Regions from separate parts of the Homo sapiens genome. Here all the other regions are linked to region 1. Evidence: fine-mapped expression QTL. A gene starts in region 1. Each other region holds a variant in brackets. All regions are shown on one strand. Distances are between the middles of the regions.

Region 1 (5,075 bases):
TGACGTGGGAGACAATTACAATTACATGTCATTGTGAAACTCATTAGGTGACTGTGATTTAGAGTGGTACACCCAGTGGAAACAAGAGGTTGGGAGGTCCTTCCAAGGGGGTGTTGAAAATGACCAAGTCATGACTATAACTGGGTGGGACCCATCCTTCTTGGAAGTCTTCATAGAAACCAACCCACCCTGCCCTGCAGAAAGAGCTTCAGTTACCTGACACCATCAACAAGAAGGCCTTTCTTTTTATGGGGAATCATGTACCTCAGAGAAACTCCAAACTTTGGAAAAGTGTGATTCTGTCAACAAGGATATTGCTTCCCTCAAATGACACAGTTCAAGTAAGGCCTGGGCAGCATCTTTATTTCACAATATTTCTAGCCTTTACTTGTCCCATTTACTTGTAAATGAGAACTGCTAACCTGAAGCTCAAAAAGATGGGGTTGAGGGAGGAGTCAAAACAACTTTCATACCTGATGTTTTGATCTCCCCATCAATCTGGTTTTTGAGCTAGCCATGAAGGCCTGCCTGGCTCTCATTGATTTCCTTTAGGGAAAAAACAAATGACAACACAGTCATTTTAGAATTATTTGGGGAACGCTGCAAATTGTGCAGTAAGGTTTTTATATAAATGGAGAGACTCTCCAACACTGCCAACAAGAAAATTCCAAAGGTGCAGGTAGAATCGGTCTCCACACCTAGGAGTGGGGCAAAGGGCTCCTTTGGTTCTAAAGAACCTATTTGTGTTTCAAATATCTTTCAGAAACTTGACACCTTGAAACTACCACTCTCAAGGAATCTGAGTAAGTCCTAGAATCGCTTTCTTCAAGGAGAGCAGCAAGACTCATCGCTTTGTTAAAGCTCTCCCTATTCACCCCTAGGGCCCAGGCCTGGATGCTGGGGTTCAGAACACCCCCTTGCTGCCCTAAGGTCCAACACTACCCAGCATCAGACGAGAAATGACCTCCTTTATTACCTGGGTCTGCCAAAGGACCTGGAAATCCAGCCTGGGGTGGGGGTGGGGGGAGTCCCAGAAACCAAAGGAGCACACAGGGGCCACAGTGGGAAGAGAACAGGCTGAAGAAAGCAAGTGTCACTAAATGTCAGGTGTAAGCTTGAAAAATAAACACAAAGAATGTAAAACCCAGCAGAAGAAATTTAACAAACCTTTGTGGTAGGCTGGGACAACGGAGACAGATCACGTACCAAGTGTAAAGTAAGTCACATTTTAAGAGTCAGAAAGTACCAAAGACCACAGATTGTTATCAAGGTTTATGTAGATCTCATACTTTTTGCAAACATCTATTTAATTAGCTTGTAGAGAAGGATCTTTTGGGCAAAATAACATTTTCCCAATTCCAGGGAATATTTATGCCTTTTAAATTCTGCCAGGAGGCCCCTGACAGGCACCAGTGACTCTTCCCTTCTCAGCGATCTGCATATTTCTAGGGAAACTTTGCACTGAGAGAGTTTTCCCCCTTTGTGAAAGGTCTTGGCGCCCAGGCAGTCCCCGACTTCCCCTCCCCCAAGTCCTGGCGACTGTTTCTGCTCAGCCCTGGAGGCTACTCTCCCGCAGCCTCAGGTTTCCCTACTTCTGCAGCGTCGGCACCAAGGGCTGATCAAATGTTTCTTTCTCCTTACACCGGCGGACCGGGAAACGCCGCCGCAGCCTCGCCTCCATCCTTCCTCCTACAGGTTGCAAATAAAGTACAGCAGCTCTGACATTAGGCAGTTTCTGTCCAAGGAGCAAGGTGACTTCATTTAATTTGCACTGTGCTCCTTCATCCCTGTCTGCATCAGGTTGAACGGGAGGCTCTCCCTACTACCAAACGCCTAACATTTCCTTGATACTGCCTTGAAAAATCATGATTATGACAAAAATAATAACGTCGGAGAATGGAGTGCTTGTTTTCTGCTTTGCAAGTCACCAAGCAAGAAAACACTTTTGTCTCCTTGGCTTTTATTTTAGGATCTCTGAGCGAAAGAGAGAAAGAGAATTTTAAGAAATGTCATTTTCGCTTTGCCAAAGATCATTGTGTCAATAACGTTTCTCTCCCATTCCTCCCCCTCCTCCCGTTTTAAAGGAAAGGTTCACGGGTCCAGCCAGGTTTCTGCCGCATCCCGACACCTGGAGACGTCTTTCAGGACCAGCCTGAATCGCGTCCGGGCTGGGCTCTGGACTCGGACTCGCAGCGGTGACAGCGGAGGCGGGGACGGGGGTGGACAAACTGCGGATCAACTCTCCGAGAAGACGGCCACCTGCCGGAACCTGCCTTCCTCCATTCCGCCCAGGAGCCTCGCAGCGGGGCGCTGGCCTGCGGAAAGGCCACGGGGGAGCACAGGGCTCCGCGCCGCCCTCCTGGGAGGGTCCGGAGTCCAGCGCACCCCGAGCCCTGGTGGGTGAGCCCGGCGGGAGGCGCGGCAGGTGCGGCGGGAGACTGGACCCCGACCTACCTTCACAAAGAGCTCGATCTCGGGGTCCCTGTCGTCCCCGTTAGCTGTCGCCGAGTCTGTCATGCCGTTGGCGCCCGGGGCTACCGTCCCGGGCCGGGGAGGCGCCACCTCTGCAGCACCTGGGCCAGCACTCTGCGCTCCTGCCGCTGCCCAGCGGGGCTCCTCTTCAGGGCGGTGTTTAATTTTTCACAAAACCATCTATTCTCCAGCCCGAGCAGCGGGGTCTGAGAGATCAGTGTCCCAGATGCTCACATGAAAAGGAGCGAAGCCGGGAGGAGGCGGGGGGCCACGGGGAAAGCCGGGTTAAGGGAATGACAACAGGTCGTGGGAGCAACAAGTGCCGGGCTGCCCGGAGGTGTCACAGGATCCGCGACTGTCAGCGATCCCGCCGCCGCCAACGCGCCCAAAATAGCCGGCGGCTGCAGGGCGGGGTCAGCCGGGCGGGGACGCGGCGGGGACACCCCGGCAGCTCGGGCCTGGGCCGGGCCACGGCCCCCCGCCCCAAGACCCCGCAGGGCAGGAGGCGGAGACAGAGCTGGTCCTGGCAAAGCCACCAAGGCCAAGAGGATGTCCTGGGGGCGGATAATGAGGCGAAGGCAGAAAGAGTCGAGGAGAAGGGGAAGGGGAAGAGGAAGGGGAAAGGGGAAGGGGAAGAGGAAGGGGAAAGGGGAAGGGGAAGAGGAAGGGGAAAGGGGAAGGGGAAGAGGAAGGGGAAAGGGGAAGGGGAAGAGGAAGGGGAAAGGGGAAGGGGAAGGAAGAGAGGAGATGGCTCTCAAGTCTTCTGTTTCTTTAATAAAGCGTCAGCTCCTCCGAGTTACTCCACTACCAGCCTTACCCACTTGGAAAGCCCTTCCTGTCTTAGTGATGCTCAGAACCCCCACCAAAAGGGGCATTTGCCATCCTTGGGCTAAGCAAAAGGAGAGTAGGGTGCTGGGGACGGGCAGGGCAGGGCAGGGGTGGCTCCTGGGGCAGAGGGGTGAGTCAACCCGGTCAGGTGCGGCTTCCATGCCTTTCAGCCTTCTGGGTTTGTTTATTTTTCTTCTCCCTTCTTTCATTTTCTTTCTATTTCTTCCTTTATTTTCTGATCTTACTTCATTCCCGTTCTCTTCTGGTTGTTTTAGTGAAGTAGGATGCAAACACAGAAAAGATGCACATATCTTAGGTGTATGCCTCAATGAATTTTCACAATCCAACCCACCCATGTAACGAGCGCCAGATGAAGAATAAAATGTTAGCCACAGCCCTAGAAGCTCCTCCTGCTCTCTCCTCTCCACATCTTTTCTCCCGTCTCCACTGTCCCAGGGTAACCATTATTCTGGCTTGTAGCAGCATAGGATCTTTTTGCCTGGAATGTTGGTGTCTGGCTTCTTTCGCTCATTACTATGTTTGTGAGATTCATCCATTGTGCTATGTGTAGTTGTGTATCATCCATTTTCACCGACACACTTACTTATTCATTCTTCTGTCAATGGACATTTGTGCAGGTGACTATCATGACTACTCTGTCACGAACATTCTCTCTATCAAACATCTTTTGGTTGGATTCACAGACACTTTTCTCTTGGATGTATACTTAGGAGTGGACTTGCTGAGTTGTAGTGTATAAGAATGCTCTCCTTGTGTAAACACTGCCATAGGTTTTCTAAAGTGGTTGCACCAACAGACATTCCCACCCTTCAGTTCTTTAAAAAATAATTATTGAATGTTTTGCACCAGAATCTGGTGGAATTCTCTTTGTCTTCTTTGCCTTCTCTTTAATTAATCCTGTTTGTGCTATGTCCTTCCTTACTAAAAACATGTATTTGTTTAATAGCTTTATTAAAAAATTTATCGCTTAATAAAAAAATAAGTAATAATACTTATTATGTGCTAGGCAAAAATGTTGAGCACTTTACATGTGTGAACTTGTATAATATTTACAAATAGTATAATGATCCCAATTTTACAAGTGGGGAAACTGAGACATGAAGTATTTAAGTAACTTATCCCTAGTCATTCAGCTAGGAAATGGTGAAGTCAGGATTTAAACCCAGACAGACTTGAGCCTGTCCTCTCAACTGCTCTACAAACTGCTTTTCTTAGTGCACACTATGGAAGTGCACACTTTGAGGAAACAAAGGCATGGTTTTAACGGTCTTAACAGAGATCAAAATCCCTTTCAGAATAATAGTTACATGAAATGAAAACTAAGGCTGCCACATGAATTGGGAAGATGAAGGAGCTATACAAGCTGTCACGTAAAGATACTATTTACCATGGTTGGGGTGAGGAGAGGAAAAGGCTTCATGGAGCAAAAGGCACTTTAGCTGAACCTTCCTGAAAGGTCAGGCATCTGATAGGCAAAGAAAAGGGAAAGATGTCCTCACTACCCTTTATGGCAGGCTGTGTCCCCACAGACTCTCAGTGCAAATTCCTCCTTCCTGAAGAAAGCAGTCACCAAGCCCAACGTGCAACTCTCTTGGTACATTATAACTTAATCAAGGTGATGTTTAATTGCTTTCCTCCTGCTTGGCTTCAGGCTTACATCACCAAAGCCTTTAGAGAAACAGTCACCTTCACAGCTGTACATTCTGCACCAATGACTACATACTTTAGGGAAGGACCAAGGTTACAGAGGGAGA
Region 2 (5,075 bases), 55 kb before region 1:
TTGTATTAAACTATGATTCTGGGTTTAGTAAACAAAAATTGTCAAAGACCAATAGAAATATGCGAGGATGCTACCATTTACTTTCACTGTCTGGGTGTCCCTCTTTCAGCTTCTTCTATTCCCCTTCAAATCCCAACAGCCTTGCGGCCCTAAGAAATTGTTTGTTAAACTCATGGGTTAAATATCGTGATCTGTGACGACCATCTGAAACATCAACAGAGAAGAACCAGGTGGGGCTCAGTTGGGCCCCACATCCTGAAAAGTGTGAGGGAAAACCCAGGTGTACTTTGTTCCAGAGAGATTTTGAGCACTGGGGGCCAGGGACCGGCACAAAAACAGTGTCCTAGGTTGAATCATGTTCCCCCAAATTCATGTCCCCCTGGAATGTGTGCATGGGACCTTATTGGGAAACAGGGTCCTTGCAGGTGGAATCAACTTGAAGATGAGGTCATATTGGATTAGAATGGGCTCTAAACATGACTGATGTCCTTACAAGAAGAGGGAAATTTCGGCACAGACATGCAGAGGACAAAGTCATGTGAAGATGAAGGCAATGATTGAAGTGATGTATCTACAAGCCAACGAACGCCAAGGATTGGTGGCAGACACCAAAAGCTAGAAGAGACAAGTAGAGCCTGGCTCTGCCCACACCTTGATTTTGAACTTCTGGCCTCCAGAACTGTGAGAGAATCCGTTTCTGCTGCTATCAGCTATACTATGTATAGCAATTTCTTGGAAACTGATGCAATCAGGGAAGTGTCAAAAAGACAATTATATATATATATATATATATATATATATATATATATATATATATATATATATAAACAGCTAATGGCAAACTTCCCAAGCTCATGATTCTGCTTTGAACATGATTGCCAGCTATAATCCTAAAGTACTTCCTGTTCCCTAGATACAGTGTATATAACAACTTATTATAAAATATCATGCCACATATAATATTCCATATGGTGATACCAGTAGTAGTAGCATAATGTAATTATATAGGCTGTATGATTGCACTTCATCTGTTATATGCTGGATACTTCATATTATATGCTATTATATATTGCCTTTCATGTGAGCTCTCTCCATATATGATGAGCTTGGCTCCCTCAAAACATAGTTGAAGTTTTATTTACTTTGTCTTCAGCAGCAACAAGCACAGGCACCTGAAACTTACTTTATATTCAGTGCCTATTTAAATGGATGCATGCTGAGGGGAGGGTGATGTCCCTCCCTTTTTGTGGCTTGAGGATCTCAAAATTCTCTCACTGGCATTCTGAAAATCATCCTAAAATACATGCATACATACTACATACATACATACATACATACTACATACATACATACATGGTTACCCTGAGTTATGTAGCACACTAGCCGGAGACTGTGGTTCTAGATCCATCTCTGCCTCTACTTCACTATGTGAATGACCTTAGATAAGTTACCTCCTCTTGGCCTCAACCACTGCACCTATAACTTCCTGCAATTTTGTAAATTCAAGTGGAAAATGGAGATTTATTTAAGACCGCGGTTCTCAAACTTTTTAGTCTTAGAACTCTTTTATGCTTTTAAAGATTGTTGAGGATCCCAGAAAGGTTTTGTTTATGTGGATGATAGTTATTGATATTTACCGTGTTGTAAGTTAAAGCTGAAAAACATTTAAATATTTAGAAAAATGCTATAATAAATGTGTCTATTAACATACACAACATCTTAACACAAAATAACTATATTTTCTAAAAACAAGAAATTTAGTAAAAGTGGCAATGTTTTATATTTTTACAAAATCTTTAACATCTGACTTAGTAGAAGTCGGCTTCCACATTTAATCTCTTGGTATTTAGTTGGGGTATATGGGGCTTTTGTTGTTGTTGTTGTTGTTGTTGTTGTTGTTGTTTTTGAAACAGAGTCTTGCTCTGTCATCCAGGCTGGAGTGCAGTGGCGCGATCTCAGCTTATTGCAACTTCTGCCTCCCAGGCTGAAGCAAATACTGACAAATATTAAGTCTGAGTAAGCATGGTGTGTCAGCCAGTTGCTCTTTCAGGTAAAAACTGCTTAGTGAGGGAGGCAGCTGGTTCAGCTGGCAACTCAATCATACAAGTGCTTTTCCTTCCACAACCATCAGACTTTGGAATGCAGCCAAAGAGCTTATGTGCATTTCCCATTTCATCAACCAGAATGTTTAGAAGACATGTATGCAAAGGTTGAGATTTAATCACATTATATAATTTTTAATGCTTCATCAAGGACATTCATAATTGAGGCTATTTTTTTTTTCTGCACATGCATGACTGGCTAGTCACACTTATACCACTGCTTGGATTTGTGCTGAAACACTAGTAAACTTACCCACGAAATACCAATCCCAGAGAGAGAAGCATACCATATTGATATAACTCTAAAAATAGTTGTGACCTCTTAAAACCCCTGAAAGCCTCTTAGCGACCCCAGAAGTCCATGAACCACATTGGAGAACCATTGTTTTAAGACATTCCATGAACACACCAGATATGTAATACTTGGTTTCCAGATAATGAAGGGGAAGCTGATAATTGGCCAAAAGTCACTCGCGGGTACCCAAGTCCAGAAGTGGGAGGAATCATTCAGAGAGGATCCAAGAAGGAATTATAGAAAGTGACCAGATGACATTGAAGCTTGATAGATGAGTCAGTTATCAATTTATTGCCTTTCAGCTCCAATGCACCCTTGAATATATGCTCTGTGAGAACAGGGGGAATTTCTTTAAACATTTCTCCTTTAAAGTGAGCACAAAGTTAGGCTTTCTCACCAGGGAGAACTAGAGGGGCACTGCAGGAGGAAGAGGCTTTCTTGCTGGCTGTGGTGTGGGCTGGGGGTGGGCAGTGTAGCTGTGAGGGCACGCAGTGGAGCCACCCCAGCTATAGGCTCAGCATGCAACCCCCCTGGCACCTCATAGCCTCAGCCTGGCAATAACCTTCCCAGCACTCTTGACACAGAAACCAAAGTCCCCATTAAGCCTATGTCCAG[C/T]CGGCCTATGGCCAGTGTGTCCACACAGCTTGGTCACCCCCTTTGCAAGCCCCACGTGTCCTGAAGGCCTTCTTCTCCACTAACACCTAGATCCTGCTGCATGCTGTACCGATGCTGATTGCCTGCTCCCTGCCTGAACTCTGGGGAGTGGGCTATTGCTTGCTCAGCGACTCCAGACCAGCTCTGGCCTGATCAAACCAGTGAGTTTCTGTGCCAGGTTCCAAACCACTTCTAAGTTTGTCCTTCCCTGGCTCCTCTCCCTCAGCCCTAGGGTACCATAGAGAGTTTCCTTATATGTCATGGTTACTCTTTTATCTTAGTTAAAACTTCATGTTGAATTTCTCCTGTTTAAGCTACCATGTAGTTTCTCACTCCTGATTGGACCCAGACTACATCAGATGCTTAAATGTCTGTTATTTCAAAATGTAAGATTTTTGTGACCTTTGACTTCTTTAAAAACCTGGCAAGGTTAAGTCCTGGATGAAGTATTAGGAAAGAAACCTCAGTTTTCTCAAGAAAGATAATTAAGTCACCACTTACGTCACATTTCCACTTTTTGTTGCTGTCGCCCATGAAACTTGTCCCTGAGGACTCAAGTGATTAAATAATTTTGTTAAGTGTACAGATAAAAATTAAGCAACAGTAGGGCTGTAACTGACCTCAGGAATGCTATACTCCAGTTCTTTCTTTTTACTGGTAGAGAAATAGACCCAGAAAGGTTAAATGAATTGCCCATGGTAGCACAGCTGGTTCCCATAGCAGAATCAGGTCTCTCTAACTCCTGACTCTCAGTTCTGAGCAGACCACACTGGCTGCTGTCCTCTAGAAAAGAGTGACAAAGTGGCAAAGGCCACATGAAAAGGACTTTCTTTAAACATAATAGCTCATTTAAACTGTTTAGACAAAGAAGCTTTCTTTATAATAATATTTCCAGCTGCCCATTTTTTAATTAGTTAGTGTAAGTCAGACAACATTTCTAGTTGTGACTATTTTTTTTTTAATACCAAACAGTCTATCCTTCCAATAATTTGGTTGGCAAGACTTCAATTAGCAGGGATGGGACTTGGTGGTACGTGGTCCACATGAGGACAGAGAGGTCTACCCTTGAAGAAATCAACATTTCCTTTCTCAGAAGCCACAAAAGGCCTAATTCACTGGGGTCACCCAGGCATTTTTCATTCAAGAAACAGGTAACAGGTATACATTTGAGGCTACAGAGATCCTCAACATTTATCTAAAGTTTAATGTATGGGCTTAATTAGCTCTATGTAGACCACTACCTGTGCAATGTGATATGAAGAATTCTAGGTATATTGGTCAGAGTTCTCCAGAGACAGAACCAGCACAACATGTATGTGTGTGTGTGTGTGTATTTATATATACATACACATATATGTACATACACACACACACACACACACACACACACACATCCTGTTATATCTACTATATATGGAGAAACGTATACACATCTTATTTTTATATAATACATTATAATAACATAATATTATATATATGTGTGTGTATATATATATACACATATATATAATACATATCAGTTGGGGTGTGAAGAGAGAGAGATTTATTTTAAGGAACTGGCTCACACAGTTGTGGAGGCTTGGTGTGTTCAGAATCTGCAGGGTAGGCCAGCAGGCTGAAGCCCCGGGGAAGAGCCGCAGTTCGAGTCCAAAGGCAGCCTGCTGGCAGAATTCCCATTTCTTCAGAGGAGGGGGTCAGTCTTTTTTTCTATGAGGCCTACCCACACTATAAAGGGCAATCTGCTTTACTCAAAGTTCACCAATTTAAATGTTAATGTCATCCAAAAAAAAAAAAAAAAAAGCACCTTCACAGAAGCATCCAGAGTAATGTCTGGTCAATATCTGGGCACTATGGCCCAGCCAAGTTGATATATAAAGTTAACCATTACACCTGGCATATTTAAATATTTTACTTGATTCAGGTAACCTATTAATTCAGTAGCTGTCATCTGCACCTTAGCTCACCAGATGGTTTTGTAAACAATTGAATATAGTTGTGTACATGTCCCCTCCCAAAAGAACTTG
Region 3 (5,075 bases), 120 kb before region 1:
TAGACTCTGATTTCAGGTTCTCTTGCTTCACTTTCCTATATCACACTTCCACAAATCCCAGAGCAGGGCCTGCCAGCTCTCTAGGTTTCTCTTCTCTCATCCACACTCGTCGTCCCTAATGGCAGCCTGATTGATCTTATGCTGAAGGCCAAGAGCTCAATGAATTGTGAGAATTTCTGGTGGAATTTCTTGGTAGAAAATAGCTCTTCACAGGTCCAATACTAATGTTTCCAAAACTGTAAGTCAGAGAGAACTCCCTACCCCACAACACATATACATCCCTTTCCATAATATGTTCCTAGTACCCTTGAGACTATATTGGGGGTGGTATACACTGGGTTTGACCTAAAATGGTAATCCTTATGTGGACTAAAAAAAGAAATTTTTCTTTTTCTAGTTTTCTTGTTTTAATTAAAGAAAGAACCTATGTTTTGCCATCTACTTCAAAATATGCCAAAAGGGAGCAACAACTGCCACAAGAACCAGTTCATACTCAACTCATCCCATGGTGTGGCAGTCTCGTGGACACGTAGCTAAGTTACAGGGGATGAAACTAGCACACTTGTGTCTAAGAGAGAGAGAAACTAAAGATAGTAAAGAAAGTGGAATTGTATCCTTGGGAAAGATCTTCAACACATGGTTAAATAAAGAGACAACCATGAGGTATATTTCACTTATCAATTTGAGTAGAATTGAAAAATAATGCATCTCAATACTGGTGATGATGTGAGAAAATTAGCACTCATAGTCTGCTGGTGAGAGAGTAAGTTGGAACAATCTGGAGGTAAATTTAGCAATCTATCTCAAGAGCCTTACAATAGGTGCGCCTTTTGACTTAGAAATTCCACTTCCAGAAATCTATTCTAAGGGAAAAATAGACATAATGAAGAAGCTAGCTTATTGGTACTTCATTATAGCATCAATTGAGTAAAAAATTAGAGTGACCTTAAGGGCTGAATAAAGAAAACTGGTTAAATGTATTGTAATACACAAGAATAAAGTTATAGATGAAAAAGGGCATGGAAAGATATTCATGATGTATGCATGAAAAAAATCCCATTAACAAACTGTATAGAGTGTTGGCTAATGATAATTCTCAAAAAAGACAGCTAGAAAAACTTATTGACCAAGAAAAGCTAAGTTTATCAGATTTATTTCAACAAAGAAGAACATCTTCTTGACAGAGTCTTAGTAGCACATCAGAAGGGAAGGATATTTACAGGGTCTTAGGGCCATTTAGGGCCAAATGATTATAAGGTGGGTCTTGAAAGGCAGAAAACGGGCTGGGATTGGGCAAAGTTTATAATGTAAAAGCTTTGAATCCATGCGCACTGTAAGGTGAGGTCTTGGACAATTATTGTCGAGCAAGCTGTAGGTCTTGATAAGTAAGCAAATATTTTCTGGAGAAAGTAGCAAGTTGTTTTTGTCTGGTCCTAGTATTGTTTGGCATAGAAACAGAAAAATATATTTGGCCCCAGAATTGTTTATCATGGGGACAGGAAGGTACGTTAGGTTCAGTTCTCTTTTTGTTAAAAAAAAAGTATTCATATTTATATTCCTATCTCACTAGAAAAAGTCTGGGAAAATAATTATTTACTAATTAAAGGTGGTTATCTGTGGGCAGAAGGATTACCAGTATAATTTATTTTTTATTTCTTATCTGTATTTTCAAAATTTTCCCTAATGAACCTATATGCGGAAAAAAGATGCATTCGTTTAAACCTTATTTAGTCAGATAATTCTAGGATTATAGCACCCAGAATCACCCTCCCCTCAAAGCTTCTAACCTGTTTCTAAATATAACACCTAATCTAGGCACAAGTTTGTGGCTAATTTGGACAACTGACTAAATTATTAACTCATCAAAACCATGTGATAAAATGAGCTTAGGTAGCTTTTCATTTTTTCAGCCAGACAGATAAATGCTGTACACACTGTTTTAGAAGGATTCGTTCTTCAGAAGCACCTTGGAAGCATATTTAACTAACACAGACACCTATTTCTCTCCTTAGCTCTCTGTTTTCACTCTATTTTCAGAATTATGGTACAGTGGGTGTCAGGGACTAGAAGGAAATGAAGAGTGAGATCCAAGGTGAACCCAGAAGTCTGCAATAGTGTCTCATGATCTCTCCAGTCAACCACTAATAAATACTTTTGAGCATCTAATATTTGCTGCGTCCTAGACAAGGTGAGGCACGGCACAAAAATTGAATAACCTACGCTCTATCTCTTAAAGGAGCTTAGTTTGTAATTGGGGACAGGGTGGTAACAGTGACTAACACACAGGAAACAATTCTAGACAGACTGAAAATGGTGTGAAACCAAGCACTGCTCCACAGACGGAATAGTACTGGGTTTTAACTGGTCTCTATTATGGCATTTGTATTATGCATCTCAGCGGTCTAGACTCCAAGGCCTATATGGATTTGGAAATAAGAGTGTTTGGGGCATTGAGATATTCTACTTAAAGGAGGATTACATTGAAACTTGTTTTTCTCATTTCCACATTTTTAAATTAAAAATCTTCCCAAATTTTGAGTATGCTTTACTCTTTGCATAAATAAATGCAGCTGAATGAACCCAATTGCAGGGCCTCAGGGTC[A/G]TGTTTATTGCACGTGGATGTAGATTTCAGTGAATCTAAGTAGAAGGATAGGAGACCTATATAATGTAAATCGACTCCAAGTCATACTCTGAAATTTACTTTAAAAGAAAAAATTCACATAGACGAATACCTGATGGCCATGTATTTTCTGGTTATTGGCTTCTTTCCATTAAAGAAGAGCACAGAGAGACCTTCCAATAGATTGAATGTTCCAATTGGTTGAAATGTCATTCCACTTAAAATAACCCTTTATTGCCAAAAAGTACTCTTCATCAGAGATTGTATAATCTCATAGACAAGGAGCCTTCATAACTCCCTTCGGGAAACTGAGGCCCAGAAAGGAGCCTTGCTCAAGGGCACATGGTAATTTAATGATGGACCTAAGAGTCAAATTCTCGTTTCTTTGTTTTCAGTCCTGACTTCCTACCTCTCCAGTCTAATACTCCATGCCTTTTCCCACAAGGTAAAACTTACTGGGGGCTCTGGGTAGGTTAGCTACTAGACATAAAAACAAAAGAAATAAATAAAAGCAGCATAGGTCACAACAACTTTGAGTGTAATGAGATACTCTCATTTACAATGTCACTTCTCTGGAAGCTTCTCTGGAACAGGACTTAGTCTTCCTCAATACTAGGCACAGTCACTGCCATCCTGTGCCCCTTGGTTTCTTCACAGAACCGTTAAGGAAACCAAGACACAGAGAGATGATGTCTCCCATGCTCCCAGCTCTTGGTCAGCCTGGAGAGCAGATGCCCTACATTCACACAGTGGAAGCCTGGGACGCCTCCTGGGTGAGCAGTCTAATGATCTAACTGGCTATTAAAAAAACAACCACCACAACCAACTTGGCTAATATACCACTTAGAATGCCTTGGGCCACTCGTGGGGTAAAAGAAAATCACCATCAAACAATCTGGGATGAATTACAGAACAGGAAATCCAGAGTTAGGACCAGTTTCAGGGTTTGTTGATTTAGCAACTCTGTGGTCACATCAAGGACCCAGGTTCTGTCTCTGTCTCTTGCTGCGTTTTGCAGCATGTTGCCTTTGCCCTGAGGCTGCTACCCTCTCAGGGTCCCCAGAGGACGGCAGCACTTCCAGGCCTCATACCCACAATCAGAAGCAGTGACCTAAGGAGTCACTTTCTTAACAACAAGGGGATATTTCTCAGAAGTTCCTGAGTAAATCTGCCTTCACAATACTGGGCGGAACTTGGTCAGGAGCCCACTTTGAAACCAACCACAGCCAGCAGGATGGCCCAGACCATTTGTGCTTTACTCTTGGAACTGGGGATGAAATCACCCTCGCTCCAGTCATCTGAGGGTGGGAGTGTGTGTGTAGGGTGGGGGAGTAGGGAGGAGGGAGGTGGTGGACTCCTGACCCAATCAGAGCTCTGCCTGTGGAAGATGGGAGTCGGGATGGTGGGGTGACCACCAGCTGCATCTACTGCACCTGTCCTGAGACCCTAGCTGCCCCTCCCATCAAGATCCACCCCTGGGTCTGCTGTTTCATTTCTTCCAAGGTAATGAAGTGCTGTTATGACTACCCTTTAGCAATGTGAATGCTCATAGAAGTCTTCATCAGACGTCACATTGGCTTCAGGTAAAGCTTACTAAGGACTCTGGGAACCTGAACCCAGAGTCAGTGATGTGGTGTTGAGAGTAGGGATTTCAGCCTAGGAACGCAAGCCACTGAGAGCCAACAGAGAGCTCTGGGCACAAGAAGAATGATATTTTAAGGAATTCTTTAAATCATACCTGGACTGTCACTGTTGATCTACCTCCATGGATGACAATGCAGATGGGAAATATGAGACACTGAAAGAGCATCAGTATAATTTTTTACCTAGCCCAGGTATTATGAAAGAATGTTTATTTAGTCTTGCAAAAAAAAAAAAATTGGTTTTAGGATGGCTGGTTCACAAACTTTGTGCTTTTCGTTTTCTTCTTCCTCTTTTCCATTTGCTTTTGATTTTTTTGTTTTGTTTTGCTTTGTTTGAGAGGGAGTCTCGCTCTGTCGGTGTCACTCAGGCTGGAGTGCAGTGGTGCAATCTCAGCTCACTGCAGCCTCCACCTCCCAGGTTCAAGCAATTCTCCTGCCTCAGCCTCCAAAGTAGCTGGGATTACAGTCGAATCACTTGAGGTCAGGAGTTCGAGGCCAGCCTGGCCAACATGGTGACACCCCCATCTCTACTAAAATACAAAAATTATCCAGGCATGCTTTGATTTTTAAAAAGAATGAACATTTTCCTTTATAATGGGAAAATAAATTAACCTTTATGTGGAAAAAAAAAAGGTACTTCATACTTGTCATCTAAAACAGCACAGGAAATCCCCACCTCAAATAAGAAGTTAGATGACCACTTTTGTAATATTTGAAAATAAACCAACTTTATTTGAATCAGTCAATACCAATCAAGACTGGAACACAAATTGGTAATTGGTTCAGATTCATGAGGAAAACACTCAGCTGTA
Region 4 (5,075 bases), 35 kb after region 1:
GGAATTTCATTTTTGTTTCTGAAGGAGGGCTCCTTAAAAGCATGAACTTCAGGTTCACAAATTCTAGGGCTGCCTCTGCTCCTAACCCAGTCTTAGCATGGGAAGATTTTCAGGCTTGACTCTTTTCCATCCTCCCTGTTTCAAATACTCTCTCTGCTTGCTCTTTGGCCTCATACACAGCAGGCATCTTTCTTTCCAGTCTCTTTGCCAGTGGTAAATGGCCTCCTTTTCTCAAAACTCACCTTGGCTGCTGCTTGCTTTGCTCCACCCAGCAGTCACCCCACCTCCCACCTCCTCATCAACCCCAGCTCCATTACTAGTCCAGCTCCTGAAACCTCAGCCCTGATCAGAGCCCTGGCCTTCCTCCTTGCCTGGGAGGGAGTTGAGGCTGGCAATGGACACAATTCAATATAGTTTAACCAGTGAGAAGTTGGCAATGCCATCAGGTGCCACTTGTCTCCCGGGGGAAGAATGGGGGCCAAGAGCCTGCAGTGTCATGTCAGTCAGGCACATGCAGTGGCTTAGCATCAGAATGCGTGGTTCAGACCGTGGCCACAGTAGGGAAAATGGACTCTTCATAGTTGCCAAGCAATGCTAAAGGTCAGACAAAATCTAATTTGAGAATTCAAATTTGAGAATTTAAAAGCCAGAGTGGTCAGAGGCAAGGGAGGAAAACAAAGGAGCTTGCTGTTCAAAAGCACTTTCTCCAGGCCTCCTGTTTGAATATCCCCTGCAACTACTAGGGTAAGGCAGATTTGGGAAAGATAGGGGACTGATTACACTAATGCTGTTTTGCTTTGCAAATGAAGGTTGAGAAGAGCAGTTTAGGGGCTGCTCCACAGGAAAACTTGTAGGGAGTAATCCTAGACTATCTCTTTCATAATCATCTTTGGGATTCTTTCCCTATCCAGGGAAGATGAATAGGTTTCATCCTTTAAATAATATTTTTAACCTACCTCCAAGCATAACATCTCCCAGGAACTTGTGAAAACAGCAAGAACTTGTGATAAAGTTACAAATGCTCAAAAATGTCCCTGTGATTAAGTTTTACCCATGCTTCTACAAGAAATTAATCCCTCTCCCTGTCTCCCTTCTCCCCTTCCTCTCTTTTCTTTTTTCATTTCTAGCAGATAGGAATAGTTGACTGATATAGGAGACAATGAAAGTACCCAACCATTGAGGGGAATTTAAACGCCCTCAGTATTAAGCAGAGTATCACATAGTTAAAAATACAGGCTTTGGAGACCAACAGACCCAGGTATGAGTCCCCATTTCAATATAACCTTCAGATCCAGGCAAGAGCAGTCAACCTGGCTGTGGGAATAGGCAGAACTAACATAAACAAGAAACAAAACATTGGGTTGGGTAAATTAACTCAGGGACAAAAACAGATATGTCATATAGACTACAATTTTCACTTCTTTGCCATCAGCTTTTGACAGGCTATGTAAATAGCCTCAGGCAGAAAGCTCGAGACATAGCAATTCCAATGTTTGGTAAGTTATAGTTAATTGTTTCCAAAATGGGAAATGCTGAGTTAAACAAGATTCAAGGTTTTTTGACTGATGTCTCTGCTCCTTTTATAAGCTAATGTGTACTGTGAATCTGCAAGAGGAGAATTAGGGACTGTTTCTCAAGTTTCTTTAGCCATTTTTTTGTGTGGAGTATCTCAAGGAATGTGTGCTCTGTGGGATATATGTTCAGAAATAAGCTCTGGCCTTAGGAGGTCCCATCACACCAATTGCCAATATATCTCCTCAGCAGCAAACCATTTTAAAGCCCAATGGATGTCACTGGGCTGTTTATTCACTTGTCCATTGATCCTTCTCCATGTTTCTCTGTGTCCCTGTAAGTGCCTGGACCACATCCCTATGCAGAGCAACCAAAGTTAATCTGTTCAGTTGAAAGTAACTGTACCTGCAGCTGTGGACAGATTCCTGCACGTAGTACACCCAGTCTCTGACGCTGTTGATGCCCTGCACTCTGGTTCTGCTTATTTGGTTAAATTGAGTTTTCTAACATAAATAAAAAGGGGAGGCTTTTATAAGGACCTTTTAAGAAATGAAAACCAACACAATATACCATTTGTCCAAGCACAAAGTAAACTTGGCATCCTGAGATGTTCAACCACATCATTTCATTATTACTGCTACTAATGGGAGACAGTGCTTGCTAGTTGCCAAGTTTGAATCATCCCATCTTAGGGCAGAGTTACTAACAGATGCCAAACCAATTTGCTGCTCTATAAACTTTAGAAATTAAAACACTAAAAGATGCACTGGCCTTCCAAACACAGGGATGTTATTTGAATACTAAATAAAAGTTGTTGCCAGGGAAATGGGTGCTTTGTCTTCTTTGCCACAAAAGAATCATGGGCTCTGAGACACTTTTGAGATGGCTTAGGTGGTAGCAAATACTTTTCAGGTATAATGGACTCTACTGGTCCTCTTTTTTTCTTGGCGATTTTAAGGTCAAGAAACTACCCTTGAGATTTATGGCAGGTTGTATTTAAGGTATAAAGTGTGTGTGTATGTGTGTGTGTGTGTGTGTGTGTGCATTCCTCCCCATGGAATCTTTGAGGTGAAAGGACAGAATTTCTCAAACTTCTAGCCTCAAGAAATCCTCCTGCCTCAGCCTCCAGAGTAGCTGGGACTATGGGCATGAGCCACTGTGTGTGAGTCAAAAGTTCTGAAAATGGAGAATACCAACTACAAAAAGATTTTTCTGTCTGCCTTAGTCATCAACAGTGGCCCCCATCTCTGAACTCTTAGAACATAACTGAACAACCCAGTCTTAAATTATCAGCCCTTCTCTAGTGTTTACTGTCACTCTTTCCTCTCTTGCACTTGTAAGCTCCTTCAGGATAGAAATTGAGGCTCCCACTTGTGTATGCCCTGGCCCTTGGGGCAATGGTACTCCACTCTCCATAAACATTTGTTGAGTTGAGTTATGTTGGCCAGGAACTTGGAGACCTGCTTGCTAGCACAATTATCTCAGTGTGATGGGGGGCAAATTACTTAACCTCTCTGGGCCAGTTTCTATGCATCTAAAACAAG[T/C]AAGTTGGTTCAAATGACATCTAAGGTCCTTTCCAGATAAAGATTGCTGAGTCTCTTGTTTCTCTAGCTCAAGTCTTCACTTGTAAAGTGAGGATAAAGTCTTGATTTAGCTCTACGTGCAATCCATAAGACGGTTAGGGTTTCTCTCCTTTTTTTTCTGTGTTTTTCCCTGTGATTCTGCAGTTGGGGCAATCTCTAAGTTTAGGATGACTGGGCAACCAGCCACATGATATGGTTAGAGAATGCTCAAATGTCTTTTCCCTTTCACGTTCTAACTGCTGTGACATGGCAACTGAGTTTCACAATAATAATAATTCCTTGTATTTGTTTAGTGCTTTACATTTTATAAAATACCATCTCATATATTTTATCTTTTGATGCTCAAAACTACCTCATAAAATAAAAAAAGCAGATATTATTCCCATATCACAGATATGGAAATTGGGGCTCAAATAATTCAATTTGCCTAATGGCACCCAGCTATTATGTTAGTCTGAATTCAGCCTGGGTGTTCTTTCCACTGCACTGACTATCTGAGATAAACCATCATCTCCACAAAGTAAATCTGTTACTTGGGTGTGAGTGGTATTTAGGACCCATTGACTCAGCCTCCTTTTGCACCTGCATTCAGCAAACATTGTTAATGTCTACTGTTTTGCACTCCCAGGGCTAGCATGACACTGATAAATTAGTCTAGTATTTTCCATAGTATATTTCTTGGAACACAAAAATGATGAGATTTCCCTGAAAAAAAAAAAAAGAAGAAATTCTTGTGGTCAAATAATTGAGAAATGCTTCATACCACACCCCCTCTTTGAGATTTGCAGGACCTATTCTTGTTTGCAAATTGAAGTGCTGAAAAGCCTTGCAGTAAAGGGTCCTGTTTACACACTTCACATTCACCAGCTCCCAAGCTGTATTTAGAACCCTTTGCTCATGCACAATGATTGAAATATTACTGTCTGCAGATTATCCTGAGATCCTGCTGAAATAAGAGTAGAGAAGTAGGAAAAGGAACAATCTTACAACAGTTAAGAAAATAAGACAGTGTCACCAATGACAAGGGTTGTTGACAAACTTCTGGAAGAGAGAAGATAGGTAGGAAAATGTTGAGAGATAATAGAGTACAGAAAATATTATAGCTCAGAATAAACCCTAAGGTAGGTACAGAGGAGGTGGGGGCCCTGTTCTTTTCCAGGACCCTAGAGAAGCTGTCAGCTTGGAGTTGGCCCATCCCACAGTGGGTGGGAGGTATGATATGGGACTCCATTGGAGGGAGTCAGTGAAATTCTATCCTAGAACAACTTTGCCAGACAGCAGCCAACTCCCACATCCCAGCTCTGTGCAGTGCACTGGGAGCCTTTTACCTGTGGCCTCTACATGGAAAGTTCCCTCCACAGGCAGCCATTTGAGGGTGTGGGGAGAGCTTGTGCTTCCAGTCTCGGTGTGGAGGTGCCAGGGTAAAGACTTTCTCTTTCTGGCATCTGGAGATCCATTCCCTGATCACCCCAAAGGAATGATGATTGACTTGGCCTCCCCTGCCACTCGGCCCTTATGATGTAGTACAGGACACTTTGGAAAAGGAACAATCAGAGAATAAGATCAGAGTTATTAAAAATTAAGAACATAACTGCTAAAAATGAAAAATTTAATAGAAGAGCTAGAAATAAGGAAAGCCTCTGAAATCATTGAGCAAAAAAGCAAATAAAAATATGAGAGAAATGACTAGAGACAGAGGCCAAATACAGAAGGGTCAACCTCCAACTAATAGGAGTTGCAGAGAGAGAGAGAGGAGAGACACTGGAGGGCAGGGCCTGATACACATATGCATTCAGTATAATCATTCCGTGACAGACCGCAAACAGGCAAAGTCCTGCCCCTGGAGCTGGGTGACAGGCTGGTAGGGCAGATGGACAACCAATAAATAAAGCACAATGCCAGTGATATAAAGAAAACAGGAGAATAAGGAAACAGAAATTCAGAGGTGCTATATTAGATGGTGAGGAGGATGTTTGAGCA
Region 5 (5,075 bases), 64 kb before region 1:
TGTGTAGGTAGGAGTGACTGGCTCTTGTTCATAGGCCATATCTACTCTTGAGTGGATTTTGTGGAGTGGTTTTGAGATTGGCAGCCCTTTGGGGGTCCTAGGCTCTCTCTTTGAAGAAAGGGTCCTGTTCTCTGGACTGGTGAGGTTCCTTTGGAAATGCATCTGCCCGAAGTTAACACCAGGACTTTATAGATCCAGCATGAACCCTTCCCATTCAACAGCCCCAGAAAGAAACAGATCCTTACTTTTCAGGGGTCAAGGTCTCCTCCAGGAACTCCTCGATCTTATTGACGTCTGTCTTCACGTCCCCGTTGAAGGTCAGGAAGGGCGGGTGCGTGCCGGGGGCTAGGTTGTGCAGGTCAGCTGGCTTTCTGTAGAGAGAGCAAGATTCAGGTGTTGGCTTACAGCAGGGTGCTTCCTGTTCTGGGAAACCTAAGATTGATTGTAACTTAGATGCCCTGTGCTATCCAACATGCCTGTCAGGTGAAACAGATTTATGGTATGCAGTATAGGGCAGGGGAGGTTGGAGAAAGTTCTGAAAGAATGTGGTGTGACCCAGGAAGTGTGTCCAGTGGAGTCAGTGAGAGAGGAACAAGTCAAGATGAAGGAGTTGAAAAAATGAAAGAATTGAAAAAATGGAGAGAATCCAGGTGACTATCTAAGTCAGATCCAAGCTTTAATTACCCAGGGGAGAGGTGGGGTTTTGCTTTTAAAAGCTCTTTCACCAATCTGCCTAACAAAAATGCGCTACACATAATTCCATACTTTAAAAATTAATGAATTAGATCATACTTTTCTCCTAATAAATATCTCCAGATACAAAAAATTGGGAGTTTGGGCCATTTGTTCAAGTTAGATGCTTCTATTGTGTGTAACTTATATTTTAATATCTAATAACTAATGTCTAACATTGGTCAGCCTTTTGTCACACTCAACAGAATACTCTTTTTGAGTTATAAACAGCCCCTGATATGGTCTTTGGGTAGCCAGGAAAATAAACAAACTATTAGATTGAAAACAAAACTATTAAATGAAGATGTTTTCAAAAGTCTTCTTATTGCTAAGATTATTGCTCCACAAACACCAGGTAGGCTATTACCAAGGATTCTGAACCAAGAACCTCCTACTGGTGAGTAAGAAGATACCTGAGAGAAAGCCTTACGATTCAAGCTCCATGAGGGAAAGGACCCAGAACCATGCCTGGCATATAGGAGGCCCTCAGTAGATACATATTTTTAATGGCTACATGAATAAAGCATGCATTTTTGATTCAGCTACAGTGGCTCATGCCTGTAATCCCACCACTTTGGGAGGGTGAGGTGGGAGGATCACTTGAGCCCAGGAGTTCGAGACCAGCCTGGGCAACATAGCAAGACCCCCATCTTTACAAAAAAAAAAAACAAACAAAAATTTGCTGGGCATGGAGGCATGTGCTTGCAGTCCCAGCTACTTGGAAGACTGAAGCAGGAAGATTGCTTGAGCCCAGGAGTTCGAGGCAGTTGTGAGCCGTTGATGGCACCACTGCCCTCCAGTCTGGGGGACAGAGTGAGACTCGGTCTCAAAACAACAACAGCAATAAAAACTCATACATTTTAAATTTAAAAATGAGTGATTTTAGCTGCAAAAGTAGAAATCAAATGTTGGTCTCAAATTGGTAAAAACTTCAATCCAGTTATGAAGGCTTTCGGCTTTCAGTTAAATGTGGGGAGAACCAGTAGGCAACTCCACTGCTACAGTATTCATGCTCCACCATAGTCTACCTTTCACAGTATTTTAACTTAATTCAAGCATCTACTGTTCTCAAAATAAGACTTATTTTGAGAACATTTACTAGATTTACTAGAAAGAAGTTATTTTTCTTTAAATTTTAAAAATTCTGTTCAACATACATAAATCAAAAATCTCCTAGGAGTCAGAAATTGTGCCTATTTTTAAAAATTATGGGGTTACTTAAATGTTATCTTAAGTTAAAAACAATTTATTTTCTAAGTAAATGCAACTTCTGCTTTGTGATGGGATTCAAATAGATCACTTGATTTATGAAAGTTATTTCTTCTTATAGCAAACTTTGCTGGGCCCAGTAGGATCTTTTAGGTAACACATACATATATATGTAATAGGCAGCAAATTTGCTCCCTAAGAAGACAGAAAGCTCTTTGGTGTGCCTGTTAGTTTCTGGGTCAGACACTTAAAGAAATCCAAGATAACCAAAGCAACAGTGCATTTCTCCCCCCTGGGAAAGAGGAGACCCAAGAGTCCTAAATTATCCTGAAAGAAAGGCCTAGATGATGGAGAAGTGGGTGAAATTCTGGAACGCAGTCCCAATTGAATGAATGAACAATTAATTAACTGAACAATTAATTGAACTTCCTGCACTTAGCCCACAGCAGTGCTAAGTGGCATTTCTGGCGTGCACTGGGGAGCACACTGACTACCTGCAGGAAGGCCAAGTGCAGTGGAAAGGAAAGTGGCCTTGTGTTTGACACGGCTAGGTCCTGTTAATATCCAGGAGTGTGCTTCTGTGTCTGCGCCAGCTGGTCAGAATGCAAGAGCAAGAATGGAGCAAAATGAGGGGGAAGAAGGTTTGGCAGATTGGGGAAAATGGGAAAGGGGAGGGTTACACTAAAAATGTTTAGGGAAGAGGAGGGAAAATGGTGGCGACTTCCAAGACGGTGCTGGGATTCACCCCAAATGCTCTCTCTGAGAATGCCACATTTCTTGTGGGAGTCGGGAGTGGAAAACATTAAACGCAGAAACTGTAAAAAAA[G/A]TAAACAGTGGGAGTAGAGGAGTCTGTAATGAAACAAATTCCTGGCGTAATCAGTTTGGGAGGGGAAGAGAAGAATTTCAATTACTGTGCTACTCCCATGTCCCTCCCCAAACACACACACTCTCCAGCTGCATTCTGAGGCACTTGGAACTCAGACAACTGAGACGGAAAGTATTTTTAAAATCTAATTTACTTAGTCCCTTTATTTACTTTGTGCATGTCCCTCATTTTAGACAATGAAAGGACATTCTTTATTTGCTCCTGTTTTTTAGAGCTGACACAAGGCAGCAACGTGTGTGCTCTCAGTCACCTCTCTGTGGCTTACAGATACAGGAATGTGTGGTGGTGGTGATGGTGGTGGTGGTGGGTTTTTTCCTGGGATTCTGGAGAATTGTGGCCACTGGAGTCAGACGCCCTTGGGAAGTACTGCCTATGGCCACCGACGCTTAGCTAGAGTTGCAGCCCTCTGTCTTTGTTGACCCTGCTTCAGTATTTATAGTTGAGACTATATCATTAGCATTGGATGACGTATTGCCAGGTATGATTTATGAATTATGTAATGAGGATCGGTCTTCTTTTCCTTACTGGATTGCCAGCTCCATGAACCCAGTGATAATTCTAAGAATAACCAACATGCAACGAGTTCTTGCTATGAGTCAGGTACAGGACCAATTGCAAATGTTTTACATGGCCTGCCTCGATAAATTCTCACAATAATCCTATTGATTAAGAAGACACTGTCTCCATTGTACAGATGAGGAAACTGAGGCTCTGAAAAGTTCAAGATTATTCAGTCACTAAAGTGTAGTGCCAGGAAAATAAATCAGTTTTCTTAGAAATTAATGTGTGTGTTCATGGGTAGAGGGGGCAGTAAGAAAGTTTCCTTATCTGTAAAAATGGAGTGGTGCTACATGCCTGGTCTACGTCAAAGGGGTGTTGGCTGGACCAGGTGTGATCATGTGAAGGAGGAACCAAACCATCTGAAGCACGCGGGCAGGGGTGGTTCCCTCTCCCACTCTCTTCTCCAGCAAACATACAAGTCCTCTCTCACACATGGTAATCCAAACACCTCCAATTCTGCACTGAAGGAAGCTGCTTTTTCATAAGTCTGCTGCTCTCTTTAGTTATCACAGACATTAATTGCATAGTGGATGCAAGTTCATTTATTTGACAGATAGTATTTGAGGACCTGTGAAAAACTAGTTTCTATGGAGGATACAAACAAACTTAAAACACGATTCCAGTCTGTCCTTGAGGGATTGAAGGTCTCATTTGAAAGATGAAACAAACTTCATAACTGAGGTATTATGAAGAGCATAGTATTTGAACCAAGCAGATGGCGTTTAGCCCCTCTAATTTCTAGTTGGCATCTTGGGCGAGTCTCATATATATCTGTCTCAGTTATTTCTCAAATAACACGGAGAAGTAAGACCTCCTTCACAGGATTATACATTATGTGATTTTTTTTTAATGAGAAAGCATTTACCAGTTGTAAAGCATTAGGGGTGCAGACCTCAGAACTTGATGAAACACTAAATCACGACACAAGGCAACATAGACAACAGGTGCTGGGTGAGTCTGGAGGGAGGTTGGGTTGACAGGTGTGCTTGTATGAGTGTGGTGGGATGGGTATGAGTAGGCCTTACAGAGGGGATGGGCTGAAGCTGAGCCTGGGGCCAGGGACAAGAAGGAAGAGAGGGCCTGTTTTAGACAGAGGATGCAGTTCTGCCAAGGGATGGAGGCTCAAAGGAAGAAGAACAGCAGAAGGCAGGCCAGCCTGACAGAGTAGACAGGTCACGGTGAGAAGTGTTGGGAAAGAGTGTTGGGAAGAATGAAGGAAAAGACAAATCGGGGCTTCGGATGCATCAAGTCCATGGACAATGGGAAACATCAAAGGTTTCCTGTGCATGAAAGTGGCCTGATTAAAGCATTATTTTAGGAATAATAACCTTAGAATCACATAAAGGATGGGTCAGAGAGAGAGAAAAAGAGAATGTGTGAACCTGGAAAGATGAAGACCAGTTTGAAGAACAATGAGACTCTCAGGGTGGCAGTGGTGAGACTTGAACCAGTTGTAGGCTTTGAGAATGAAAAAGAGAGTTTGGAGGAAGAGAGAGTGCAATAGGAGAATGCTCTAGACTTGGCTACTGATCAACAATGAAGGCAGCAATAGAAAGGAGCAGGAAGTGTTTAGTGCCTAGAAAATAGAAGAAAAAGACCAGGAGCAGTGGCTCACGTCTGTAATCCCAGCACTTTGGGAGGTCGAGGTGGGTGGATCACAAGGTCAGGAGTTCAAGACCAGCCTGGC
Region 6 (5,075 bases), 110 kb before region 1:
GAGCCCAGATCAGGCTGGCCGGCCGAAAGGTGGACTGTGTCTATCATTTCTGCTAGATTCCTATGTGAGGAGGCCAGGGATGGTGCTGACCTTCATGAAAGATAGCAGGCTGGAGTTCCCATGATACCAGCAAGATGAGGCTTGATTATAAAAAGTGCGCCTCAAGGCAGTGATACAGAGGAGTCTATGAAGCTGGAGTCTTAGGGGAGTGGTTGAGTCCTTCTGCAGCGGGGATGGGGCAAAATGGCTGTGCTCAGGATCGGCTGAGGCGTTTGGCGACATCAGCGTAGGCCAACTCGATCTCACTGTCAGCTGCACAGGTGTTGGTGAACTCATCACGGGCATAGGCGTTCTTGAGGTACCGCCACAGGCCTGTCATCTCAGCCGGGATATCATAGTTGCGGTATTTCTTGGCCACAATCTAAAACAGAGATGGCAGGACAGAGGTGGTGTGAAGGCATGAAACAAATCATTAGAAAGTGTTAGTGGCCGTCCCAGTGTGTGTGCACTGCAGGAAACCTCCGTGCATCACCACGGGCCATCAGTGATATGTTTGAAATGCAAGGTGGCAGTGCTGTCTTCTTTTTGTTTTGTTTTAATTTAATTTCTTAAGTAAACATAATTTGCCCTTTGACCTAGTGTGTCAAATTCTAGGAATTTTTTCTCAGGAAATAATCATGGATGGATATAAAGATTTACCTACACAATTATGATCCCAGAGCTATTTTGAATAACAAAAATGGTGCACAGCGCCAAAGTCCAACAATATATGAATACATACATTATCTTACACAAATAAAATGTCATAGTGGAGGGACATTAAAAATGATGCTGCTAAGAAAATCTAGTGATCTGGAAAACTCTCCAAGATAGACTATTACATTTAAAGTTCAAGTATAATGCATTTGGAGAAACATGTATGATGGCTAGATGTCTATATACCTATATATTACCAGTGGTTATGTCTGATTGATAGAATTACCAACAATTTTTCTTTTCTTCTTTCTCTTATTCACTTTGTTTTACACAGGCCAGTTTTTCCCTTCTTTATTTATAGAAGGGAAAAAAAACCATGAAAAGCAAGTTAGATATTGGAATGTATATGTAGGTTTAGACTATGACATAAAAGTAAGCAAATACTGATTTCTGTTCTCGCCCTGGTTTGCCACAGTCAGGGGGGATGTGGACTGGAGAGTTCTGGAGAAGTGGTATTTATGTTGAGAGAAACAAGAGCAAAGTGATTAAAAGCATGGGCTCTGGATACCAACTGACTGGATTTGCAATCATGGCTCCACTTAGCAGCTGTGTGACATTGGGCAGGTTACTTAACCTTTCTGAGCTCCAATTTCTTTATCTCTAAAATGGATATAATAATAAAACCTACTTTGGAGTAATAAATTAGTTAATACACATCAAATGCTTAGAGGAGTGCCTGGCAAATAGTAAATACTCAATAAACATCAAGTATTATTATAATTCATTGAGACCTAGCTTGTACCCATTTGCATGCATTTTCTTAATGGGGACAGCAGGATGGTTTCTTTAATGAGGTCTCTCTAGCTGCGGCAGCTTCATGGACCTGTGACCTGTGCAGTCTCACCTTGCACTCAGAAGAGCCCTGCTGTTGATTTAATGCTCTGGGGTCAATGTGTGGAAATTCTTAATAATTTTTAAACAGGGCCCCCCTGTTTTCACTGTGCACTAGGGCCTGCACATTAGCTGGTCCTCCTCTAGCCCTTCCAGGCTAGGCTAGGGTAGGGGTAACAGGAGAGTAGTATCACTTCTGACTCCCCTCCCTCCCTCTTTTCTGTCCCTTTCCTTCCCTCCCTACTCCCTTCCTTCCTTCCTTCCTTCCATCCTTCCTCTCTCTTTCTCTCACTCTCTCTCTCCTTCTCTTCCTTCCTTCCCTCTTTTTTTTGGGGGGATACAAGGGGGTACATGTGCAGGCTTGTTACCTGGGTATAACGCATGATGCTGAGGTTTGGGGTATGATTGGTCCTGTCACCTAAATAATGAGCATAGTTTTTCTACACTTGCCCCCTCCATCCCTCTGCCAAGTAGTCCCCAGTGTCTATTGTTGCCATCTTTATGTCCGTGAGTACCTATTGCTTAGCTCCTACTTATAAGTGAGAACATGTAGTTTCATGTTTTCTGTTCTTGCATTAGTTTGCTTAGGATAATGGCCTCCAGCTGCATCCATGTTGCTAAAAAGGACATGACTTTGTTTCTTTACATGGCTATGTAGTATTCCATGATGTATATGTACCATGTTTTGTTTATTCAGTACACTGTTGATGGGCACCCAGGTTGATTTCATGTCTTTGCTATTGTGAAGAGAGCTGTCATAAATATATGAATGCATATGAAATTTTTTTGGTAAAACAGTTTATTTTCCTTTGGATATATAACCAGTAATGGGATTGCTTGGTCAAATGATAGTTCTGCTTTTAGTTCTTTGAGAAATCTCCAGAGTGACTGAACTAATTTACATTCCCATTAACACTGTATAAGTGTTCCCTTTTCTCCACAGACTAACCAACATCTGTTGCTTTTTGACTTTTTCACAATAGCCATCCTGACTGGTGTGAGGGAGGTGTCTCCTTGTGCTTTTAATTTGCGTTTCTCTGGTGACTGGTGATACTGAG[CT/C]TTTTTTTTTTTTTTTTAATGTTTGTTGGCCACTTATTATGTCTTTTTTTGAGAAGTGTCTGTTCATGTCTTTTGCCCACTTTTTAATGGTATTATTTGTTTTTTTCTTATTCAATTGTTTAAGTTCCTTATAGATTCTGGATATTAGACCTTTGTCAGATGCATAGTTTGCAAATACTTCCTCCCATTCTGTGGGCTAACTGTTCACTCTGTTGATAGTTTCTATGTGCAGAAGCTCTTTAGTATAATTAAGTCCCACTTGTCAATTTTTATTTTTGTTGCAATTGCTTTTGTAACTTCATCATAAATTACTTCCCAAAACTGATGTACAGAATGTTTCCTGGTTTTCTTCTAAGATTCTTACAAGTTGAGGTAAATCTTTAATCCATATTGAGTTACTTTTTGTATATGATGAAAGGTAGGGGTCCAATTTCATTCTTCTGCATAGGGATAGTCAGCTATTCCAAAACCATTTATTGAATAGGAAGTCATTTCCCCATTGCTTATTTTTGTCAATTTTGTGGAAGATCAGATGACCGTAGGTGTGTGGCTTTATTTCTGGGTTCTCTTTTCTGTTCCATTCATCTATGTGTCTGTTTTTGTACAAGTACCATGTTGTTTTGGTTACTGTAGCCTTATAGTGCAGTTTGAAGTCAGGTAATGTGACACCTCCAGCTTTGTTCTTTTTGCGTAGGGTGGCTTTGGCTATTCCGGCTCATTTTTGGTTCCACACGAATTTTTAGAATAGTTTTTTCTAGTTATGTGAAAAATGACATTGGTAGATTGATAGGAATGGCATTGAATCTGCATATTGCTTTGGACAGTATGGCCATTTTATCAATATTATTTCTTCCAATTTATGAGCATGGAATGTTTTTCCATTTGTTTGTGTCAGCTGCAATTTCCTTAAGTAGTGTTTTATAGCTCCCCTTGTAGAGATTTTAACTCCCTGGTTAGATGTAGTCCTAGATATTTTATTTTATTTTATTTTTGCAGCTATTATAAATTGGAGTATGTTCTTGATTTGGCTCTCAACTTTAATATTGTTAGCATACAGAAATGCTACTGATTTTTGTACATTGACTTTTTTTTTTTTTTTGAGATGGAGTTTCGCTCTTGTTGCCCAGGCTGGAGTGCAATGGTGCAATCTCTGCTCACTGCAACCTCTGCTTCCTGGATTCAAGCGATTCTCCTGCCTCAACCTCCTGAGTAGCTGGGATTACAGGCATGCGCCACCATGCCCAGCTAATTTTGTGTTTTTAGTAGAGACAGAGTTTCTCCATGTTGGTCAGGCTGGTCTCGAACTCCCGACCTCAGTCGATCCGCCTGCCTCAGCCTCCCAAAGTGCTGGGATTACAGGCATGAGCCACTGTGCCCGGCCACATTGACTTTTTATACTGAGACTTTACTGAAGTTGTTTATCAGTTCCAGAAGCCTTCTGGTGAAGTCTTTAGGGTTTTTGAGGAATAGAATCACATCACCAGTAAAGAGAGAGAATGTGACTTCTTCTTTTCCTATTTGTATGCCTTTTATTTCTTTATCTTGCCTGATTGCTCTGGCAAGGACTTCCACTACTACATTGAATAGGAGTGGTGAGAGTGGGCATCCTTGTCTTGTTGCAGTTTTCAAGGGGAATTATCCCAGTTTTTGCCCATTCAGTAAGATGTTGGCTGCAGATTTGTCATAGATAGATGGCTCTTATTATTTTGAGGGGTGTTCCTTTAATGCCTAATTTATTGAAGGTTTTTGTCATGAAGGGATGTTGAATTTTATCCAAAGGTTTTCTGTGTCTATTGAGATGATCATTTCATTTTTGTTTTTAATTCTGTTTATGTGGCGAATAACATTTATTGATTTGTGTATGTTGAACCAACCATGCATCCTAAGAAGAAGCCTATTTGATCAATGTGAATTAACTATTTGATGTGCTGCTGGATTTGGTTTGCTAGTATTTTGTTGTGAATTTTTTGTGTCTATGTTCATCAGGGATATTGGCTTGAAGTTTTCTTTTTTCATTGTGTCTTTGTCAGGTTTTGGTATCAGGGTGGTGCTAGCTTCATAGAATGAGTTAGGAAGGAGTCCTTCCTTGATATTTTGGAATAGTTTAAGTACGATTGGTACTGGTTCTTCTTTTTATGTCAGGTAAAATTCAGCTGTGAATCCACCTAGTCTGGGGCTTTTACTGGTTGGTAGGTTTTTTTAAATTACTGATTCAATTTCATAACTCAATTAGTATGTTCAGGGTTTCAATTTCTTCCCAATTCAATCTTGGAATATTGACTTTGTATACTGAACCTTTACTGAAGTTGTTGATCAGTTCCAGGAGCCTTTTGGTGAAGTCTGTAGGGTTTTCAAGAAATAGAATCATAATCAGTAAAGAGAGAATTTAACTTCTTCTTTTCCTACTTGTAGGCCTTTTATTTCTTTCT

Which allele goes with the higher level. Positions count from the first base shown, and alleles are read on the strand shown. Sizes are in standard deviations (SD) of each study's normalised expression. Not every link is listed here.
In carriers of allele CT in region 6, the expression in skeletal muscle of the gene that starts at base 2,835 in region 1 tends to be higher than with C alone (moderate effect, 0.73 SD a copy in FUSION).

Evidence for each region. PIP is the estimated chance that this variant, and not a neighbour inherited with it, causes the effect.
Region 2: its variant is the best candidate, but not a certain one, in a credible set for the expression of CLIC5 in lung (TOPMed, PIP 0.53).
Region 3: its variant is the best candidate, but not a certain one, in a credible set for the expression of CLIC5 in whole blood (INTERVAL, PIP 0.75).
Region 4: its variant is the best candidate, but not a certain one, in a credible set for the expression of CLIC5 in whole blood (INTERVAL, PIP 0.80).
Region 5: its variant is the best candidate, but not a certain one, in a credible set for the expression of CLIC5 in tibial nerve (GTEx, PIP 0.90).
Region 6: its variant is the best candidate, but not a certain one, in a credible set for the expression of CLIC5 in skeletal muscle (FUSION, PIP 0.83).

What each region holds. Positions count from the first base shown.
Region 1 is chr6:46,013,026-46,018,100 of GRCh38, forward strand. It overlaps CLIC5 (chloride intracellular channel 5), which reads right to left and starts at 2,835. Exons shown (of 6, transcript NM_016929.5): 1 at 2,455-2,835. The coding sequence starts at 2,517. RefSeq lists enhancers at 1,948-2,792, 2,793-3,637 and a silencer at 2,486-2,535.
Region 2 is chr6:45,957,651-45,962,725 of GRCh38, forward strand. The region is part of intron 1 of CLIC5 (chloride intracellular channel 5); the gene reads right to left. Among named protein-coding and RNA genes, the nearest start is that of CLIC5, 56 kb to the right of the region's middle. RefSeq lists an enhancer at 2,990-3,489. The variant C/T (reference allele first, on the strand shown) is at 3,013.
Region 3 is chr6:45,893,487-45,898,561 of GRCh38, forward strand. It overlaps CLIC5 (chloride intracellular channel 5), which reads right to left. Exons shown (of 6, transcript NM_016929.5): 6 at 4,970-5,075. Among named protein-coding and RNA genes, the nearest start is that of CLIC5, 120 kb to the right of the region's middle. The variant A/G (reference allele first, on the strand shown) is at 2,603.
Region 4 is chr6:46,048,323-46,053,397 of GRCh38, forward strand. It overlaps a transcript of CLIC5 not described here. Among named protein-coding and RNA genes, the nearest start is that of CLIC5, 35 kb to the left of the region's middle. The variant T/C (reference allele first, on the strand shown) is at 3,057.
Region 5 is chr6:45,949,011-45,954,085 of GRCh38, forward strand. CLIC5 (chloride intracellular channel 5) reads right to left here. Exons shown (of 6, transcript NM_016929.5): 3 at 246-371. Among named protein-coding and RNA genes, the nearest start is that of CLIC5, 64 kb to the right of the region's middle. The variant G/A (reference allele first, on the strand shown) is at 2,768.
Region 6 is chr6:45,902,835-45,907,909 of GRCh38, forward strand. It overlaps CLIC5 (chloride intracellular channel 5), which reads right to left. Exons shown (of 6, transcript NM_016929.5): 6 at 1-421. The coding sequence ends at 254. Among named protein-coding and RNA genes, the nearest start is that of CLIC5, 110 kb to the right of the region's middle. The variant CT/C (reference allele first, on the strand shown) is at 2,646.